Linked DNA regions of Homo sapiens: region 1 is linked to region 2. A link means that fine-mapping ties the variant in region 2 to the plasma level of a protein whose gene starts in the linked region. Region 2 holds a variant in brackets. A gene starts in the other region. All regions are shown on their reverse strands.

The links. PIP is the chance, under the fine-mapping model, that this variant and not a neighbour inherited with it causes the effect. The UK Biobank Pharma Proteomics Project read protein levels with antibody pairs (Olink). The fine-mapping took linkage between variants from a reference panel, not from the people measured, so its PIPs are less certain.
Region 1: it holds the start of NPTX1, and the variant in region 2 is fine-mapped to the plasma level of the NPTX1 protein (UK Biobank, PIP above 0.99).

Annotation. Positions count from the first base shown.
Region 1 is chr17:80,474,888-80,477,893 of GRCh38, reverse strand. NPTX1 (neuronal pentraxin 1) reads left to right here and starts at 1,287. Exons shown (of 5, transcript NM_002522.4): 1 at 1,287-1,891; 2 at 2,176-2,383. The coding sequence starts at 1,448. RefSeq lists an enhancer at 2,300-2,833.
Region 2 is chr4:87,057,074-87,059,573 of GRCh38, reverse strand. The region is part of intron 4 of AFF1 (ALF transcription elongation factor 1); the gene reads right to left. Among named protein-coding and RNA genes, the nearest start is that of AFF1, 120 kb to the right of the region's middle. RefSeq lists an enhancer at 752-841. The variant T/C (reference allele first, on the strand shown) is at 1,514.

The sequences.
Region 1 (3,006 bases), not on the chromosome of region 2:
AGGGGTCGGGGGGCCACGGCTGTAGCCCGGCCCCGCAGTCTCGGAGCCTCAGTTTCCTTCTCTGTACCACGGGAGCGTGGACGGAGGGATTTCCGAGGCTTTGACCGCTCTGATAGCCCCGGGGCGGGGCGGGGCGGGGCGGCTGCGCCAGCCCTGGTCCTGAGCCCCCAGCCCGGCGCCGGAACCCGGACCGCGATCTCGGGAGCCGAGCCCCGCGGTCCAGATGAAGGCGCGAGTGCGCGGGTGCCGGGTGGGGTGTCTGAGCGAGAGCGGAGCTTCTCAGGTGGACGCCCCCAGCCACCTCCGGGACCCTTCCTGCTGGCCTTTGGGCCTGAGAAGTGGGCGCGGCTGGACAGACGGGAAACAGCCCCCCACGCACAGGTGGACACCCGGGGATACCGGGCGCGCGCGGCGCCTGGCAAGGGGAAGCTGCTGGAGACGCGGGCGGCTGCTCCCGCGGGGCCCCCTTCCGAAGCGCCGCTGCGAACGTCCAGCCCCGGCGACGCCGCCTGCCCGCGATCGGGCCGGCGCCGCGGACAGGAAAGGCTCGATCAGCTAGGTCTGCCTCCGAGAAGTCCCCAGCGCCCCGCCCGCACGGGGTGGGGACTGACAGTCCCCCGGGGACGGGGCCGGGTCCACAGAGCCCGGGAGCTGGGGGAGGGGAGGCGCCGGGGGCCCCGACCCGTGGGAAGTCCCTGTACCCAGGCTGCCCGGCGGCTTCTCAATAGCACACGGACATCTAAGAAACGCGGGGCGGCCCGGTGACCCCCGCTCTGGACTTAGTGGCGCCGCGAGGCCCCACTCCGAGCCGTTGACCACCGGGCACTCGGGTGTTGACGACCTGGGTCCTTGGGCACCCAGCCCGGCTCCAAACGACCCCGGCCCAAGGGTGTTCAGTGCAGCCAGGAGGGCCGAACCGAATTCTATCTCCCGGACGCGGTGGTTTCCCGCCCGCCTGGAGCCCCGTCGGAGGTTCGGGGACACCACGCAGGTGGTCCATCCTCGAGTCCGGGGCCGGAGCCCGACTTCCTTCCCCCTGAGCTCTCGGAGCCTTCGGGGCAGCAGCGCCGGCCCAGGCGGGGGCGGGGGAGGAGGGGGCCGCGGCAGCTCCCAGAAGGGCGGGGGGGACGCGAGCGGAGGCAGCCCCGGTGGCGCGCTCGTGAGACCCCCGCCGCGCCGCGGGCCCGGGCCGCGGACAATTAAAGCGGGATTCCTCCCCCGCTGACGTCGGCGGCTCGAGGCCCCTCCCGCGGCGGCATAAAAGGCGCGGGCTCCGCAGCGCAGGCGGCAGTGGGGGCCTGATAGCGCGGCGGTGTGGACCGCGCGGCCGAAGAGCGCGGCGCCCAGAGCGCGGGCCGCTCGCGGAGCCACAGCCCGAGCCGGGTCCCAGCCGGAGCCGAGCCCCAGCCGAGCCGAGCCGGGCCCGGAGCGCCCGGTGCCCGCAGCCATGCCGGCCGGCCGCGCCGCGCGCACCTGTGCGCTGCTCGCCCTCTGCCTCCTGGGCGCCGGGGCCCAGGATTTCGGGCCGACGCGCTTCATCTGCACCTCGGTGCCCGTGGACGCCGACATGTGCGCCGCGTCCGTGGCCGCCGGCGGCGCCGAGGAGCTCCGGAGCAGCGTGCTGCAGCTCCGCGAGACGGTGCTGCAGCAGAAGGAGACCATCCTGAGCCAGAAGGAGACCATCCGCGAGCTGACCGCCAAGCTGGGCCGCTGCGAGAGCCAGAGCACGCTGGACCCCGGAGCCGGCGAGGCCCGGGCGGGCGGCGGCCGCAAGCAGCCCGGCTCGGGCAAGAACACCATGGGCGACCTGTCCCGGACACCGGCCGCCGAGACGCTCAGCCAACTCGGGCAAACTTTGCAATCGCTCAAAACCCGCCTGGAGAACCTCGAGGTCCGCGCGCGCCCTCGGCTCCGGTTCCCCCTCCGGCTCGCTCGCCCCTCTGCCCTCCCCCACCCCGTTCCCTACCCGGCCAGGCATCCCCCGCCCTCGCCTCAGCCGCGCGGGTGCCCGGCCGGTGCCTCCCCGCGCCTGCGAGGCCCCGCGGCGGCCACTCGCCCCAGCTCCCTGCCAGGCCGCCCCCGCAGTCGCCCAGAGGGGACCGCGCCGCGGGCCTTCCAGCACGGTCCCCGCGCCTCGCCTAACGGTGTGGTTTCCCCCGCCCTTGCACCCCGCAGCAGTACAGCCGCCTCAATTCCTCCAGCCAGACCAACAGCCTCAAGGATCTGCTGCAGAGCAAGATCGATGAGCTGGAGAGGCAGGTGCTGTCCCGGGTGAACACCCTGGAGGAGGGCAAGGGGGGCCCCAGGAACGACACCGAGGAGAGGGTCAAGATCGAGACCGCCCTGACCTCCCTGCACCAGCGGATCAGCGAGCTCGAGAAAGGTACTGGGGCCAGGGGGAGCCGTGCTGCCTGCCTGCACCTGCTTGCCCGACCCTGCCTCGGTCCCGATCCCTAACAGCCCAGCTCTGCACTGTGCAAGCCTCAAGCCGCTCCGCTACCCCCAACCCCTGCACCGCTTTCTCATTCCCCGCACCCCTTCCCAGGTTCTGGGCTTCTAGTCGGTGTTTCTATCAGGGCTGGGTGCCTTGGGCTGGGGCTGTCTCTGGGAAAGGGGATTGCATAGTGCCCCCTCCCCCATCCAGACACACTCACACACTCGCTGGATTTTTCAAGTCTGATTTGTTTAATCCTCAGTAACTTTGCACAGTGGCTGTCGCTGGCTCAAACCCTCCCTGCTTAAGAAAGCCTGTCTCTCCCTGGTCCCCAGCCTCAGCGTACAGCTGGGTGCAGGCTGGGGCTGGGCGCTCTCGTTCCCCGGGCCGCTGAGGCTGTTAAGCAGGTTTCTTCCCGGCTGCCATGCCCCCGGTGTCCTCTCAGGATCTCCAGCTCCTCCCCACTTCTGTCCTGAACCCCTACCCTGAGGTTTTCTTTTCTGAGTGACCCAAGTCCTGGCATCTTTCAAATCCCTGAGGTTTCTCAGTCACCAACTCAGGCCAGCCAGTCT
Region 2 (2,500 bases):
ATCAAATCACTCATGTGAAATAATGTGGCATACTGAGAAGCAGGAAAACAGCAAGATGAGAGGTTAGAAAGAAGTTGTAACAGTTCAAGAAAGACGGTAAAAATCCATACTAAATGAGGGACAGAGAAAAGGAGAAGCTATGAATGTTTATAAAGTAATCTCCATAGGATCAAGCTGCTTTCAAAACAATGGAGTATATGACAGAAAGGAATTGAGAACTGATGACCAGGAGGAAGGAGAACATTCTGTGTGTGAAGTGATACAGGGAGAGGGGGGCACAAAAAAATCCATTTTAGACAGGTTCAATTAAGATGCCTGTGCAACACCTACTAGAAAAGTCCAGTGGGCAGGTGGATAACAGAACCTAGATCTCAAAATACGTTTTAAGAGTTTTAGGCTAGAAAATCACTCTGGTGTTCGTGAGCAACGGCAGTTGAATCTTAAGTGCAAATGAGGTCACCAGGGAAAGGCTGCAGAATGAGAAAAGATGGTTGAGGACAGAGCCCTGGAGGAGGAGTGGGAACAGCAGCCTCCAAAGGAGATTAAGGCACGTACAAAAAGGTAGAAGAAAACCCAGACAACAGGGGAGGAGAGTGTTTAAGGTGATGGTGGTCAAGTGTCAAATGCTACAGAGATGTCAAGTAGGATAAGGCCTTAAAGAGCATTCCTCGAATTCATCCAATACAGTCCACTAGTGGCTCCTGCCGGCAGAGGCAGTGGCGTGAAGGCACAGAGCAGGCTGCAATGGGTTGCAAGTAGAGGGGAGGGGAGGAGAGGAAGCAGGAACAGTGTTTACCTACTTCTGTCTCCAGAGCTTTTGCTGTGGAGGGAACAAGAAAGTAGTAATTAGAGAAGACACAAGAGTGAAGAAGGGTTTGTTTTGCTCTTTCAGTTGGGAAAGGCCTAAATGTAACTATAGACTATCATGAAAGAGCTGAGTAATAAGGGAAAGGTTTAAGCTAACCAAAGGTTGAGAGTGGGGGAGTTGAGAACACCTCCTTCTGTGAGATTAAACAGAAAGAGACAAATGGTGGCTGCTATGATTTGGGGGCGGGGGTGGCACTGTAGGTAGAAAGAACTGAGAGAATTCATACCTGGTGCTTCCTTCTCTGAAAGGTAGGAAGCAAAGTTAAAGGTCTCAGTGCAAGCCACATGGCCACGAAGACCAAAACTGAGTTTTACTCATCCTGTCATTTGAATCACCCGTGCCACCCTATATTTGCATGACTCATCAGATGCCAACATGAAAGCAAGGCCATGTGGAAAAACAGCACACTTTAAATAAAAGTGTACATAAGCCATCATTACTCCACAGAAACCATGTTTTGTGGCAGATGGAGCGCTGGAACTAGGAGCCAGGGTCCAGGTTTCATGTCTCCATCTCTGCCATTTACTAGCTTAAATTAAATTTAGAGACTCAGTTCCACGGCATGTAAAATGGTGACTCCTGCCAACTGCCATACTTAACTCACAAGGTTACTGTGATAATCAAGAGAGAAACAAATAAGTGCTT[T/C]GGAAATTAAAGGGGAAAGGGCACTACAAGATTTTAGAGTGCGTACATTTTTATAAAGTGAACTGTTTACACCAGAGATTGCCAAGCCACGGGAATGCTGCTGTTCAGGAGTGAGCTCACAGAGCAACTAAGCCATCAGGCAGGGGTGGGGATGGTGGGCGGGGGGATGTTGAAGACAGCGGTGGGGGTTTAACACCATGGCAAACCCATTCTTAAAAGCTTGATAACCCCTAAGGAAATACTTTCTTTCACTAGGCTTTTCATTTGTTTACTTATTTTTAATACTTTAAAATCAAGTCTTAGGGGCTTTATTCACTTAGAACTCTTAACTGGGAATTAATGGTCCACTTGATCTAATTCCAACTTCATTTCTAAAGTACATTTCAATAAACAATACGATCAGTCTTCCTAACTCCCCAACATCACTAATTCCCCATTTTGATAACCCTCTGTCCAAATTCTTTTTCTTAAGGCCCAGTTCAAATTTCACTTCTACCACTACCAAGAGTTCCATAGTAGGAGTATGGAACTCATACTATGCACAAGGCACTGTCTTAAGTAATTCAAAGATTACCTCAGTATATTAGACCCACTTTACTTACAGACGAATAAACTGGTAACACAGGAAGGTTAGGTTCCTTGCCCAAAGTCTTACAGAATTATAAGCCCAAGCTGTACCACCTGCCATGAAGCCAAAATAATTCTCCGCCTTTTATTAATGATTCTTGTTTTTATCTAAATTACTCAATAAATAACTAAAGAATTTCAAAAGCTGGCCCTATCTTGCCACCAGGCCCATCTCCCCACTGCTCTCCTCTGCCCATGCCCAACCTCCTGGAGCCACAGGCCCTGCCACTCCCACTAGATTTCCCTCCGTGTCTTGCTTCTATGTCTTTTCTCTTCCTAAGCCTTTAGCCTGGATGTACCTTTCACCAGAGTGCAAAGTGCTTCAAAAGTCAACTCTTAAAAAAAAAATGTACAGCTTCT